Homo sapiens: one gene and its partners. The protein of the gene in region 3 purifies or fractionates together with the protein of the main gene of each other region. This does not show direct contact. Each region holds a gene or a part of one and is shown on either strand. Other genes may lie near its edges.

The links. The genes of interacting proteins can lie anywhere in the genome.
Region 1: the proteins of USP32 (region 3) and EFNB2 purify together in Homo sapiens (co-immunoprecipitation; one large-scale study listed by IntAct). This does not show direct contact.
Region 2: the proteins of USP32 (region 3) and ABCF3 purify together in Homo sapiens (affinity purification with mass spectrometry; one large-scale study listed by BioGRID and IntAct). This does not show direct contact.
Region 4: the proteins of USP32 (region 3) and DNAAF5 purify together in Homo sapiens (affinity purification with mass spectrometry; one large-scale study listed by BioGRID and IntAct). This does not show direct contact.

Annotation. Positions count from the first base shown.
Region 1 is NC_000013.11:106,532,863-106,536,889, reverse strand, and holds the start of EFNB2 (ephrin-B2 isoform 1 precursor), read left to right. Parts: upstream 1-1,227; 5' UTR 1,228-1,925; coding exon 1,926-2,047; intron 2,048-4,027. UniProt on the Homo sapiens protein: Cell surface transmembrane ligand for Eph receptors, a family of receptor tyrosine kinases which are crucial for migration, repulsion and adhesion during neuronal, vascular and epithelial development.
Region 2 is NC_000003.12:184,184,725-184,188,998, reverse strand, and holds the start of ABCF3 (ATP-binding cassette sub-family F member 3), read right to left. Parts: upstream 2,801-4,274; 5' UTR 2,792-2,800; coding exon 2,719-2,791; intron 2,493-2,718; coding exon 2,345-2,492; intron 2,205-2,344; exon of another isoform or gene 2,204-2,204; coding exon 2,124-2,203; intron 1,636-2,123; exon of another isoform or gene 1,603-1,635; coding exon 1,556-1,602; intron 1,336-1,555; coding exon 1,238-1,335; intron 1,139-1,237; coding exon 1,016-1,138; intron 859-1,015; coding exon 592-858; intron 336-591; coding exon of another isoform or gene 329-335; intron 239-328; coding exon 158-238; intron 71-157; coding exon 11-70; intron 1-10.
Region 3 is NC_000017.11:60,221,134-60,224,633, reverse strand, and holds part of USP32 (ubiquitin carboxyl-terminal hydrolase 32), read left to right. Parts: intron 1-1,047; coding exon 1,048-1,223; intron 1,224-2,084; coding exon 2,085-2,225; intron 2,226-3,500. UniProt on the Homo sapiens protein: Deubiquitinase that can remove conjugated ubiquitin from target proteins, such as RAB7A and LAMTOR1.
Region 4 is NC_000007.14:778,699-782,198, reverse strand, and holds part of DNAAF5 (dynein axonemal assembly factor 5), read right to left. Parts: intron 2,247-3,500; coding exon 2,055-2,246; intron 1-2,054. UniProt on the Homo sapiens protein: Cytoplasmic protein involved in the delivery of the dynein machinery to the motile cilium.

The DNA of each region.
Region 1 (4,027 bases), on a different chromosome or scaffold from region 3:
GAATTACTGCCCAGTTTGTGTTTGAAACATAAATCCTGGGGTGGACGGCATTAAATTGAAAAAAAACGTGGGCATACAGTATATTTTAATTTTTCATACTGAATCGTACATTTGCACTGTGCCTTATTTCTACCGTGTTCTTCCTACTGTTGGACATATAAAAAGATTTTCCTTGGAACTGTGACTTGATTAGATGCTGCAGTATGCTGGATCCGGGTCGGTGGACCGCAGAGCGCTCGAGATGCGGAGAAGCAAAGCTGGCCGCTAGTGGGCGCTGTGGCTCCGTGGAAGTCACGGACGAGCGTCAGCACCGGCGCTCGACCGGGAAAGTAGCGAGGAGTTCCTGCCAGCTCTGCTCTGGGGTCTTGCAGACGCCGAGTGAGAAGCACATGCCTTGACTTTTCCATCTCACACCCTCTAAATCTCTGGTCACTTTGGGAAGCGCGCGTGTCTCCTAGAGGCTAGTGAGACGGTCCCCGCGTCGTGCCTGTGCCGGCGACACGCGGGGAAAGCTCCAGGGGCGCCACCTTCCCGGGGGGCCAGGAGGGAAGGGAGACGCCCGCAGAGAAGGCGGGAGGCGACGATGCTCAGGCCCTGATTAGAGCTGCAAATTCCGGCGCCGCGTCGCAGGAATCGTCTTGCAATTCCCGGCCCCACTGACTGAAACTGAGCCGTAGGCGATTGGTACCAAAATCAAGTGAGAAGCCCTCGCCGAGAGGCGTCGGGAGAAGCGCGCAGAAGCCGGGAGCTCTAAGGGTGCGCGCGGAGTGCAAGTCTTGCACGCGGGGCAGCGCCGCATCTGCGGAGAAGGGACGCCGAGCGGAGCCTGCTGCCTTCCGCACTGCTCGAGGGAAAGCCGCGCCCTCTGATTCCGCCGAGGGGGAAGGCGCCCCCGGGCGCGGAGACAGGTGGCCCGCTACTCGGCCGTCGCTGTTTCCACGTCTGCACCGCGCCCAGAAGGCCTCTCGCCGCCCCGGGGGCGCCCTGTGCACGCGCTGAGCGCTTCTCCTGCCCGGCTTCTGCTCCGCTCCCGCCGCCCGCGGGAGCCAGGGGCGGGGCTCACCTGTCAGCCCGAGCCCCGCCTCGCGGCACCCAATGTCGGGAGGGGATGGCGGACGGACGGACCGGCCGTCCAACCAGCGCGCGGCCGCGGAGCCGCGGGCCAATGGGCTTCGCGCGGCGGGGCGGGGCCCCGCGTTTATAGCGCTCTGACAGCGCGGCGGCCGCGCTGACTCTCCTCGGCGGGGACCGCGGCGCCGGCCGGAGCGAGGAGCTGCGCACGCAGCGGGTCCCGGCGCCCTCCCCGCACACAAAGGCCCGCGCGCGTCCGGAGCCCGCGGCGGGGACCGAGCTCCCTCTTTCCTGCCCTGGGGGCCGGGAGCCGCGCGGACTGAGAAGGCTCCTGCGCGCCCGGAGGCGCCCTACTCCGCTCCGTGCTCCGGGACATGGAACCGCGCCGACGCGGCGCCCGCGCGCTCGGGCCGCTGCCCGCTGCACTGGATCTATAGTCACAGGCGGCCCCGCTCGGGGCGCAGCGCCCGCCGCCCGCGCCGGTCGTCTCCGCTCCGGGTCTTTGTGTCCCAGCCCGCACCCGCCCCGCGCCCACCCGCCAGCCGCGGCCGGCCCGGCACCCTGGAGCCGCACGGGAGTCGGCCGTCCGAGCTGCGTCCGGCGCGGCGCCCCGGAACCCCGAGTCCGCCGCGCCGCCGCGCCCCGCGCGTGCGCTCCCGCCCCGCGCCCTGAGGGCCCCGGAGAGCGAGCGCACCTGGCCCGGCGACCGCTGGAGCTGCGCAGCGCGCCTCGGAGCTGCCTGCGGGCGCACGCCGTCTTCCCCGCCAGTCTGCCCCGGAGGATTGGGGGTCCCAGCCTGCGTCCCGTCAGTCCCTTCTTGGCCCGGAGTGCGCGGAGCTGGGAGTGGCTTCGCCATGGCTGTGAGAAGGGACTCCGTGTGGAAGTACTGCTGGGGTGTTTTGATGGTTTTATGCAGAACTGCGATTTCCAAATCGATAGTTTTAGAGCCTATCTATTGGAATTCCTCGAACTCCAAGTAAGTGGCGTCCGCGATCCCCCTATGTCCCCGCCCCGGGGTCCGCCGCGCCGTCCGGGCGGGAGGAGGGGTCAGTCCGCGGGGCCTCGGAGCCTGTTTCTGGAACCTCGGTTCCCCGTCCCCCACCCCCAACCCCCGCCCCATTTCACTAGGTGGAGACTCCTCGCTCGGCTTTCCAACCCGAGCCCCGCTGGAACGGACGGTCTCTCCGCCTTTCCTCCCCCGAACGCTCCCAGGCGCTAAAAGCTACTATCGGCTCGGGTGTCAAGTCCGGGAAGGTGTCCGATGGCGATACCTGACCCTCTCCTGTTTTCGAGGACGAAGGACATGGCCACAATCTAGGCTGGCCGGCACGCGGGGACTGGTGGGCTCTGGAGAGAGGCGGAGATGCTGCATTCGCGGGGAGCGCGGGCGGCGTGGTCCGGGGCCCGCGGGCGGGCGACCGGGGTGGCAGGACGCTGGCAGCGAAGCGCGTTCTGGAGAGGGGAGCCTGGAGTCGCTACGCTGCCCGCAGAGCCCTGGAGCCGGGGCGCCTTGGCACCGCGCCGCCAGCCCGAGGGTGCGCGGGGAGCTCGCCTGCTTCGCAGGAGAACTCGGGCGTCGAGCCCTTTCCTCCGCGCCGGGGAGACGGGCCTTAGGCTTCTCCCTGAGGGCCCGCCGCACCTCGGCCTCCCGCTTCGTTCATAAGCCGGTAGCCCCGGAGTATGCGGTCTCGATGGCCGACCTGATTGTAATGCACTTCCTATAAAAGCTTAGGGCCCTGCCCAGTCGACACTGCTCCTGAAGCCTTCTCCCTCGGGACCCTGGTAGGAATGGGATCCTTAGGATCAGATTTGCTCTTACCGGACTCTACAGCCGGGAGCGAGCCAGGCCTTGTGGAGAGTAACTTTCAGTTTGGGCCACCAGAGTGCATTCAGAATTTAGAAAATCCCATCCATCCCTAAATCTGTGTGGTCATAACTCGTAGTCATCTGGGTATTCAGTACTGTGTATCCCCTTATTTCGAATCACAGCCAAAACATATTTTACAGAATCTTGGAATTGTAGTCTCGGGAAACTTGGAGAAGAAGTATGCAGACATTAGCTGGTTTCTGGAGAAAACGTTTGAGATCAGAAGCAAAATCAATGGCCTAATTGAAGTTGAGCAAGTTGGGCCTGGTTTTAGGAGAAAAGAAATGGGGGATTGATTTAGAAATCACGTCTTAAAGGAGTGTGTCCATTCTCTTAAAAGTGTCAAATTTCAAATTCACTAACATGTTAACCAAGAATCCCTTCATGAAAAGGGCGAAAACGTCGGTTACAAATCGGTTTAAACAAATGTTTGTATGATGCTAGAAGGCACTTTCAACACCGCTCATACGGAGAAGTTACTTAGCTCTGCCTCCTTCCATGTAGTCTGCTCTTGCATGGATTATATTTTTAATGTAAATTGTTGTATTTGCTGATGAAGTACTGGCGGCGGCATCTTTGCATCGATGCCGGCTCGGGAGGCGCCAGGTGGTGCCGGAAGGAGCCGGGCTAGGACCTCGCGCAGCAGCGGGTCCCGGAGTCCGGGAGAGGCGGGCGGGCGGGCGAGGCGGTCGCGGGGAGCCCGCGGCGCCGCTGCCCGCCCGGTGCCTCCAGAGGTCACTCTTCCATGCGGAATCGCGCAGCGCCAGGCCTCGCCCCTCCCCCAGGCCGCCTGCTCCAGCCACTCTGCACTTTCACTGACCGGTTCTCTTTGAGGCTGTTTTTTTTTTTCTTATGAGGATTTAATATTTCTGTTTAAATCTAGTTGAAAGCAATTCCGTTAGCCTCTTCAGCGTTTAGTTCGGTGTGTGTATCTTTATCTTTGCGCTATATTAACTATTAGTTTGTGTGTATCCGGTAGGAGAATTAGAAATACCTAGTTGGGAGAAAAAGAAAAGTAGAACAATAGTTATTTCAACCTAAGGTTTAGACGTTAATAACTTCTTTTTGTAATGTGTCGAGATGGGGGGT
Region 2 (4,274 bases), on a different chromosome or scaffold from region 3:
GGTCACTCACCGGGTGGGCTGCTGCTGCATTTTAGGGGTAAAGCCAAGCCCAGCGAGAATGACTGATGCCCTAGTAGAGAAGAAATCGAAGAACTCAGTTGGAACAGTCCACAGAAGGGAAAGGAAATCTGAAGGAGGGAGGGGGAGCTTTAAATACCTGGCAGGTGCCTTGTCAGCCTCAATCTCCTCCAGTTTGGCATAGATTTCTGCCAGCTCTGCAGCTTCAGAGCCCTCCGCCCTGGAGGGAGGAGAAACAGCAATTGGCCTAAGCAGGGGCAGTCTAGGAGGATGTCCTGCACCCTATACCGTTGGAAAGGCCATTGGCTACCTTGTGGCTGGAAGAGGAAGAGAATACAGGAAGGGTTTGCACAGTGCTCATTACCTTGGGCACTATGGAAATGGGCACTGTGGAAAGAACAAGAAAGGGCAATGGGCACTGTGGAAAGAACAAGGGCTTCTGAGTCCCAGAGTGCCAAGTTCTAAGCTCTGCTGATTACTAGGATGTACATGCAAATTATGGATTGTTCCAGGACGGCAGGCGCTCTGTAAGCGACAGCGGCTGCTAGTTACTCCCTAGCCGGGAGTCCTCACCTGCCAGCAGCAATCTGGGCAGTGAGCTCCCGCTCCCTCCGTAGCAAATCCTCTCGCACACTGTCACTCTCCAGCACACTCTGCAGGGCAGGAGTGTCATCTCCAGCAACCTCTTGCTCAACGTGCAGCAGGGAAATGTGGGCTGGAACCCGCAGACTCCGGGTGGCCAGCATCTTCAGTAACGTTGTCTTCCCCAACCCATTCCGCCCCACCAGCCCGTAACGGCGGCCCCATGCCAGGTTCACATCCGCTCCAGCCAGCAGTACTCTGCAGGAGTGGAGAAAGGAGACCAAAGATGCTCTAGAAATAGGTGCACAGCAAGTTTAATGACAAACCTAACATTGTTTATAGCCCCGTTTCACCTCTCCAAATTGTCCTCTAATTAGAAAAAGAAAGCCAACCCCTGCCACCACTATTCCCTCACCTATCGCCAAAAGACACATCAAAGTTCTCAATTCGCACATCATAGGATTTGTTCTTGCCAGATGATTCCAACCGACTCTCCTTTCTGCTGCCTGCCTGGCTGGCTGATGCCTCTTCTAAGACTCTTTAAAGGGAGAAATGGACAGCTCTTAGTGCTCCCCACCACCTTCTGTCCAGGCAAAAGCTGCTCTGCTCTCTTCTGAGCCATGCTTCCCCCACTCACAGAGGGTTGCTGGTCTTGAGCGTGTCCTTCTCTGAGCGCTTCTCCTGCTTTGCCTTAAGTCGAGCCTCGGCCTTCTCTAACTTCTTTGCATTCACTGTCTAAGGGTCCAAACACATCGACTTCACTCTCGGGTGTAGGCTCAGAAAGGAACCCCAAGAGAGAACATCTCGAGTAAACCCTCTTAACTTACCCATGATGAACAGACTCAAAGGCTCAGGAAAAGACATAGTCAGAAATCCCCCCAAAAGATACTCCAATTAGACAGTCAACTCCCAACCCCATCACAGACAGTCCCCTCCCTTGCTTCCTCCTCCTCACCGAGGACTGTTCCCTCTTTAGCAGTCCTGGAAGTTTGGTTCCACAGTCTGTAAGCGATAAGAAAAGCAGTCACCTTCTCCCTGAGGGAAGGGAAACTAACATTTTGAGTGACTAATAGGAACCAGGCACAGACACAGATGTTTTCTACAAAACCTTATAATACTGCAGATAGATGGCTATTATCTTCCCTGCACTAAAAACAAAACAAAACAAAACAAAACAAAACTCACGTAGAAGGATACAGAGGCATAGACAAGGCTGGGGACAGATAACCAACTCTTACAAGATCATGCAGCTGGTTAGCAAGTTGCAAAACTGGGGGTGAAAGCAAGTCTGTCCAGCTCCAGGCTCTTATGCTTCCTATCCTACCCAAGAGCTTGGAGGGAGAACCCTCCAACCTCCTCCCCACCCCCATCATGGGCTCTTCTGCCCTCGGTAAAGACATCAACTAGCTCCTACAACCTTGTCCTGTGGAAAAGACGTAGGAGCCCTAAGCTGCAGGCAGCAGATGGTTGGGGGCGGAGAAAAGCACAGGGGGGCAGTTAGTTCAACCTCCCCTCACTCTCACCGTAGTTCTCCGTTATCTTTGACAACTGGATAGGGGCGTCCAGTAGCACCTGGCTATTTCCCTGGCTTTGTGGCTCAGCCCTATGTGGGTAGGGATAGAAAGCGCAGAGTTAGGAGTTGAGGGAAAAGCTCTATGGCCATCAGATCTTCCTCCCCCACCTCTTGTCTCCGGACCGTTCGCCGTCCCTTCGCCCCCATCAACCCCTACTCCCTGGCACATACAGACGCAGAGTGTTGTACATGCGCTGGCACACGGCCCTGATGCCCGCGTCATCCTTGCTGTCCCCGGACACCTCTTGCAATAGTTCCCCTACAGCTTCCACCAGGTCATCCACAGACTCGAAGTCCGCGCTGCCGCTGTGCAAGACGCCTGGGCAGGGCGTGGTAGAACGAGGAAGGTATCGGGTAGGGTGGACACACAAGCAGTTTCAGACCCCAGACAGAGGCCCCAGTCCAGGCTCCAGACCCAACCAGCCCCCGGGACAAGAGGTCATGCAGAGGAGAGGCCTGGCAACAGTCCCGGGCACGACGCTCGCTTAGACTTTCCCCCGGCCTCCACTTCGGTCTCCCCAGCCGGCCGATTCAGTTCTGCTTACCGGTCACGTAGTCGAAGACTTGTCCGTCAATTTCGGGGAACTCGCTCCGCAGGATTTCGGCGCAAGTCGCCATGTTCCACTCAGGAACCCGTCCGCGCAGTCGCTGTGAGACCCCGGCCTAGGCCCGCCCCCCGCCCTGCCCCCGAAATCTCGCCCTTCCTTGCAAGGCGCATGTGTAGCGGTGACGCAGGAAAGGAGCGGAGTGCGCAGAGCCCGGTGGGCGGGGCGAGCGGGGCCTTGAGGAGAGGCGCCGAGTCTGCGCCGGAGCCGCGCTCTCTGCGCGTGCGCGACACCTTTTCCGCTGAAAGATTAGCCACATGTGCGGTTCTCGCTGCCTTCTGGGAGGTGGAGTTCCGGGAGCGAGGGGTGGGGCAAAGGCTGGGAGCTCAAGGTTTATCGGGGCCGCGAGGCACCCGTGGTCTGGCGGGTGGGAGCCTCCCAAGAGGCAGGCGGCTGATAAAGCACTTTGGCTTTGCCAGGTTTTATGCGCTCCCTCGAGGCGCGTCTGCTGCTGGTGCGTACCCAGTCAGGCCCATTTTGGAGCCTGCCCAGAGCTTTGCTGACTCACCCCGGTCCCTGACTCTCAGAAGCCCCCTGCTCAGTGCTTTGCTTTCGCGGGTCCCCAGACCCTACGGGCTTCTCAGCCTGGTGGCCAGCGCCACCCGCCTCCCCGCCGCGACCGCCTTTTCACTGTGTAATTCAGCCGACCTTTGTGAATTAAGCCCATTCAGTTCTTCCACCACCCCAGGGCACGACCAAATCCACCGCCAAAGGGCAAGAAAACCAGGACAACGTGGCCTGTATAAATTATTCCCTACCTACACCCTGAGCAGACTTCTCTGCACTCAATAAATGCCAATAAAAGGCTATTTCCTTTCACCGATTCCCTCGGGAAGTTAGGAATTTCCTCCAAAATGATGCTACTGCTTTATATTTAACGTGAATATTCCTCCAATTGGTCTCTAAAAGTGGCACCGAAAATTACATTATTACCCATTCATCCCTTTGGATTAAACATTGCCATCATGAGGCATCAATCCCGATATTGAACCATTTTACAGGAAATACAGGTAAAGAGGAATATGTTAAGTGACTTCATGGGGACAACAGGCAAATTCTGATGTGGTAAACTACAGAACTCTGGTTTCTTCCACAAAATTGCAAGACCTGAAGGGAAACATCAATTTTTAAAATTTGAGGAGCATTAACCAACCACAATGGACCTTATCTGGAAAAATTTGATAAGACACCTGGTTAAGTGAACACAAACTGGATGTGATATTAAGGAACTGGCCACGCATTGATCATAGTTGAAGCTGGGTGATGAGACATGGAGATTCATTATATTCTTTTTTTTTTTTTTTTTAATTTGAGAAGGAGTTTCGCTCTTGTTGCCCAGGCTGGAGTACAGTGGCGTGATCTTGGCTCACCGCAGCCTCCACCTCCTGGGTTCGAGCGATTCTCCTGCCTCAGCCCCCGAATAGCTGGGATTACCGGCATGCACCACCACGCCCGGCTAATTTTGTAATTTTAGTAGAGACGAGGTTTCCCCATGT
Region 3 (3,500 bases):
TTTTTTAATTGTTTTGTAGAGACGAGGTCTCATGTTGCCTGTGCTGGTTGCAGTCTTCTGGCTTCAAGCAGTCCTCCAGCCTTGGCCTCCCAAAGTGCTGAGATTACAGGCATGAGCCATTCCTCCTGGCGTGTGTTATTATTTCTTCCAAGATGTTCTTTTCCTTTTCTGTGGAAGGTGTAAGCAAATTGGACAGAGCTAGCATTTTCTTCACAAAGCTCCTTGTAGAATCTGCTTCTTCCCTCCCTTTCTGGTATTACAAAGATCACTTAGCAGTCCTAGAAGTGCTGTCATCAGCTTTAACATGAGGATTATTTCTTAACCCCATCTAAAGATCCTGTTTGGTATGTGCTTACCATATAACTTGTGACACCCAAAGGCTGCATACCACAGGCAGAAGGTTACAAAGTGATGACTGCTAGATTGTTTACCAAAGATTAGCATGTAGTTGAGAGTTGAAATGGCTTAAAATACCACTGAGGCTCACAACTCTAAGCCATGGTTAATCATCTTCTGTGCATATTTTCGTATTGTAAAGATCATGTATTTCTTTCAAAAGAACTTGTGGACATTGAGTTCATAGATACAATAGGATCTAGCCCCCATTACTCTTTTGTTGGAGTTCTTGTTTTAGTTTTCTTTTAATTTAGTGACTTCATATCACCATTATCTACCAAGAACATTTGGAATATTTTTCTAGTTTGAGGAAAATAATTAAAGGATGCTATGTAGAAGCCCAGCCACTTAGCCCAGCTCTTCCCTTCCAGTCGGAGGACATATAATTCTCATTATGAATTATTAGATATTCTAGGAGGGTGGCCAAATGTTCATTTGGTAATAATTTTAAAAGCTCTTATTTTTAGTACCATGCCATGTATTGTTCAGAGAAGGATAACATTTCCTGTCTTCTACAGAATTACCAGAATCTTAATCTGTACTGACATGTCAACAGAGTAATACAATACATGGGCATTGAGTTCATATCCTCAAGCCTGTTTATGTATAATAACTAAAAATAAGAGATTCTATCCTCTTTTTTTTTTATAGGCTTTCTGTATTCTGCCACACCAGGGGCAGATGTTTGCTTTGCTCGACAACATAACACTTCTGACAATAACAACCAGTGTTTGCTGGGAGCCAATGGGAATATTTTGTTGCACCTTAACCCTCAGAAACCAGGGGCTATTGATAATCAGCCATTAGTAACTCAAGAACCAGTAAAGGTAAGTAATTTTACATCTAAACTTAAAATTATTCTCTTGCAAGCTATTAATAAATTTCATTTCAGAGGTTTTAGCACATAGCAAAACATTGATGGTTCATTTAATTACTGTATTATAGATGGACATCTCTTTGTATAGTACATTTCTGTGAGAATATTTATGATTTAGAACTTACATAGAAGTAGTTTAGTAACCCTTGGCATTATTGTTATTCTTACTTAGGACAGCTATTCTGAAAATGTTGTTTCACATACGCTATGTATGAATTTTTTTTTCCAAACTAGTATTTTTTATTGTTTGAAAGAAATCTGTGAAGTTATTTCAAGTGCTTTAGTGATTTTTCCAAATGATATGCTTTGAGTTTCATTTCTTACATAGTTTATTTTGAAAGTCAAAAATAAAAATCTCTCATTAAAAATTCAGTTTTTTTGCTGGACGTGGTGGCTCATGCCTGTAATCCTAGCACTTTGGGAGGCTGAGGTGGGCAGATCACCTGAGGTTAGGAGTTTGAGACCAGCCTGGCCAACATGGTGAAACCCCGTCTCTACTAAAAATACAAAAATTAGCCGGGCATGGTGACGTGTGCCTGTAATCCCAGATACTCGGGAGGCTGAGGCAGGAGAATCACTGGAACCCGGGAGGCGGAGGCTGCAGCAAGCGAAGATCGCGCCACTGTACTCCAGCCTGGGTGACGGAACAAGACCCCGTCTCAAAAAAAAAAAAAAAAAAAAAATTAAGTTTTTCCAGCAACATGAAACTGGGTGGTGATATATGAGTTTGTTTTCCTGTTTCTAGGTATTGCTGAGACCCAAAAACTTTTGTAATATTGAAAGTCAACATTGTCATTCTATTCTTTCTCAGGCTACATCATTAACACTAGAAGGAGGACGATTAAAACGAACTCCACAGCTGATTCATGGAAGAGACTATGAAATGGTCCCAGAACCTGTGTGGAGAGCACTTTATCACTGGTATGGAGCAAACCTGGCCTTACCTAGACCAGTAAGTATAGTTAATAGTGCCTTATATAAGGAGCAGTCATAGATGGGGGTCTTCTGTTACTTTTTCTATGTGACTCTCACTAACCACAAAGTAGCTCTTACCTTGTGGTAGAAGAGTGTTCTGAACCTGTGTGGATTGTTCAATGTTAAGTTCCTTCACATTCGTTCATTCATTCATAAATAAAGGCAAGGAAATAGGAGGCTGTTGAATGTGTTATCCACATAAAAGTAGACATCACCTAGGATATGTGGAACTTAGGCTGGAGGGGAAGACAGGCCAAGAGCCAGTGCCAAAAAGTTCAGTGAATGTAGGGCGTGATGCAGAGGTTATTTCTGAAACTACTATTCCTAACAATCACACAAGTATCTAGTTAGGGATTGGATTCTTCTTGTAGCTTTTGGTGGATTTTTGTGGTTTATGTTTTTGAAGGAGGGGCATATAAAAGATCACAACATATGATAACAGAATATTATATTAAAATATTAGTATATAGCACCATTTGTTGTGCTTACACGGTAAACAGCACTCGGTACTCTGGACACTCACTTTTTACATTGTTGATGAAGTAAAATATAACAAGATGTTTTGGTGGGATTTGTTTTGGTATATTAAGAAACACTCTTCCACCTGTAATCCCAGCACTTTGGAAGGCCGAGGCAGGCAGATCACGAGGTCAGGAGTTCGAGACCAGCCTGGCCAACATAGTGAAACCCCGTGTCTAATAAAAATACAAAAATTATCCAGTGTGGTGGCACACTCCTGTAGTTCCAGCTACTTGGTAGGCTGAGGCAGGAGAATTGTCTGAGCCCAGGAGGCAGAGGTTGCAGTGAGCCAAGACTGCACACCATTGCACTCCTGCCTGGGTGACAGAGCGAGATTCCGTCTCAAAAAAAAAAAAAAGAAAGAAACACTCTTCCTTTTATAATGTCCAAGCTAAAACTTCCTTATGCCAGGAAGGTTTTGTATAGATGAGATATGGTACGTTAACTTCTAAAAAGAGTAAAAATCTGTTATAAAACAGACTAATGTAATTTTGATGTTGATTTTGAGTTCTTAATAATTACGTTTATGAAAAATAACCTCAAGCTCCAGGGTTTGAACAATATTCCCACCTCAGCCTCCCCAATAGCTAAGACTGCAGGCACACACCACCATAACAGCTAATTTTTAAATTTTTTTAAGAGACAGAATCTTGCTGTGTTGCCCAGGCTGGTCTCGAACTCCTGGTCTCAAGCAGCCCTTCTGCCTTGGCCTCCCAAAGTGCTGGTATTACAG
Region 4 (3,500 bases), on a different chromosome or scaffold from region 3:
GAGTTTCTGACGCCGCGTGTCGGGAGGCGGCCACGCCGCGAAGATCCGAGTTTCTGACGCTGCGCGACGGGAGGCGGCCACACCAGGAAGATCCGACATCGCATAACCGGATGTAGCCACGCCGGGAAACCGGACGCAGCTGCGCGGGGAAGGTCTAAGTATTTTCCAAAGGAGGCAAAAGGCAAAGTCAGCACATCCAGGCCCAAAGCTTCCACACAGCAAAGGGAAGAATGAGCAGAGTACAGCCGCAGGGACAGCCCGCGGGTACGGGATGGGAGACTGTATCTTAGAACCGCCGCCTGACAAGGATTAATCACTGGAATATATGAGGAGCTCAGGCTCAATAGCAGACAATCTAATAATCCAATTAAAAATGGGTAAAAGACCTGAACAGACAGCTCTCAAAAGACAGCATGGAAATGACAAACAGGCGTCTGAAAAGGTGCCCACCACCACCGCTCCTCAGAGAAATGCACATAGAAACAAGTGAGACATCCTCTGACCCCAGTTAAAATGGCTGCGGAAACAAGTCCCGGCGCGGATGTGGAGACAAGGGAACCCTCACGCTGCTGGTGGGAATGTAAATGAGCACCGCTGGGAGAACAGTCTGGAGGTCCCTCCAAAACTAAAAATAGAGCCCCATACAGCCCGGCAATCCCACTTCTGGGCAAATACCCAAAAGAGAGGAATTCAGCTATGGGGGAGAGCTGCACGCGCACGCCGAATGCCCCACTGTTCCGACAGCCAAGGTGTGGAAGCAACCGGGGTGTCCACGGACAGATGAAGGGAGAAGGAAAACGTGGAGCGCACGCAGTGGAATATTATCCGGCCACAAAAGAAATGAGATCCAGTCATTGGATCAACATGGAGGGAAGTGGAGGTCGCTATGTTAAGTGAAATAAGTCAGGCACAGAAGGGCAAATTCCGCACATTCTCATTTGTGGGAACTAAAAATAAAAATAATTCAACTCATGGAGATAGAGCAGAAGGATGGCTCCCAGAGGCTCGGAAGAGGAATGGGGCCGGGGGAAGAGGTGGGGATGGTTAATGAGTACAAAAACAGAATGAGTAAGATTTAGTATTTGATAGCACAACAGGGTGACTATGGTCAACAATAATTTATCACACATTTAAACATAACGAAAAGTATCACTGAATTATTTGTAACACAAAGAAAGTGTAAGTGTTTGAAGTGACGGGGACCCCATTTCCCCAATGTGATTTACACACACTGCATGCCTGTATCACAGTATCACACATGCCTTATATACACCTATGTGTACCCACAAAAATTAAAAATACAAATTTTATTAAAAAAAAGAACAACGTCATTATATTCACCAACAACAAAACAAAACAAAAAAAAAAAAAAGAAAAAAAAAAGCAAATCGTTACATTCCAAGTGTGAGATGGACCAGCGGATTTTAATGCACTGAGCGTGGAAGGCTCTGTGGTGTGTGGCCTCAGGCCCTGTGCTGTGAGTGACCTTCAAGGGACGGCCTGTGTCGCTGTTGGCGTGGTATTGAAGAAGTCCCACGCCTATCTGAAAAGGCTACTAAAATACTCTTCTTTTGTCCAACTACACTTGAAGCCACAGGCGAGGCCAGATTATTTTCCACGTATTTCAGCCAGAGCCATACACATCATGACTGACTGTATGGAAGATGTGAAAGTCCAGTGTCTTCCATCAAGCTACACATTTAAGACATTTGCAAAAATCGTTCTTGCAGATGATTTTGTTTTGGAAAGTATTTTTCAAAAACACAAGCCATCTGTGTCAATATATACTGGGCTTACTATTGTTATTTTAAACAACTAACAAGTATTCTAGAATACTCTCAGTTTTGATTTCTGTTAGAGGAAATGTCAGCAGCTATCACCACAAAGACAGCCGCTCTCAGGGTTTGCCAAGAACTCAAGAGTGTGCCAGGCCGGAGCTGAGGCCCCTCCTGTGCCCCAGGGCCCTGTGGCCGGTCACACGGCTCAGCTACAGATGCCCGTGGCAGGCGCCGAAAGCAGGCATCGGAACGAAGGCCAAGCCGTCGGAGTCTCACCTAAAATTGCATCCTGGATGGCCCTCTCTGGATCGTCAAGGTGAACCAGCAACTCTCGGTACAGGTACTGGACACTGCTCTGATAGTAGGATTTTGCGTTGGCACCCTTGACACACTGCAGCCAGGTGACCAAGGTGGAGGCGGCTGCCATCCTCACATCGTTGGACACGTCATCTAGGCGTTTTAAGAGTTCTGGAAGGAGGGAGCGAGACAGGTGTGTGAGTCTAGAGCAGACATTTCACGTCTAAACGTCCACAAAGGCATTTAGTTCATACTCCCATGGGACACCTGCCCTGGGGTCCTAAGAAACCCACACCTCACGGGAGACTCCGTGCATCCCGAGCCACATGCAAGGTGCTCCTGGCGACCTGGGACCCCTGAACCCCAGCCAACAGAGTGGAGGCGGCCCAGGCCCTGCTGCGGCCCCTGTAATAACCTGTCCTGCAGGCGCAGAGCCTCCCTGTAGCTGTAGCTGTGTGCTCACCTGGTCCTCCACCTCCTCGCAGCTGTGTGCTCACCTGGCCCTCCACCTCCTGCTCCCAGATGCTCAGATCCCCGAGCTGGCCACCCTGCCCAGCTCTGACCCTGCCCTCCCACCAGAGCTGAGGACTCAGTGACAGACAACCCCCTACTGTGGTCAGTTTTCTGCTGCTGAAAACAGAAGGATGATCCTTCCCGATGGGTAGAAACTTATGAGGTTAATGGACATAATTTTTATCAAATTTATGCTTTTTTTACATCATCTTAAAAAAACTTTGGCACCCCCTTCTGTGCAGCATCCGGAAATTCGCAGATGACTGAGTCGCAAAACCACCCGGAGGCCCATCTTCCCGACGCTGGGAGGGGCAGCTGCCCATGCCTGGCATGAGGCCCATCTTCCCGACGCTGGGAGGGGCGGCTGCCCGCGCCTGGCACCAGGCCCATCTTCCCGCTGCAGACGCGAGGGTGGGCTGGGTCTCTGATGCTTTTGCAATGTGGAGGGCATGATCCACCCTCAGCAAGAGGATCCTATGTAACGAAAGGCATGAAAAACATCCAAAGTTCAGGCCATCCTACCAAGCCAGGCTTTGAGACAAGTGGGACCCAGTGGGTTAATTCCTGGCAGATGCCCAGGCACTTCCCTGAGGGTTCTGGGCCCTGAGGGTGCTGGGCCTTCCAGCCACCAAACACAGGCACCAAGGAGGAAGCCACGGAGCACATCCAGGCATTATGGTGCCAAACCCTGAAGCAGCCCTGCACGGCAGGTGCCCTCACTGCACAGCGGGTATGCTCACTGCACAGCGGGAGCCCTCGCTGCATGGGGGGTGCTTTTGCTGCATGGGGGGTATGCTCACTGCACGGCAGGTGCCCTCACTGCACAGGGGGTATGCTCACTGCACGGCGGGAGCCCTCGCTGCACAGTGGGTGCCCTCGCTGCACGTGTCTCAGGAGGAAGGACGGAGTCAG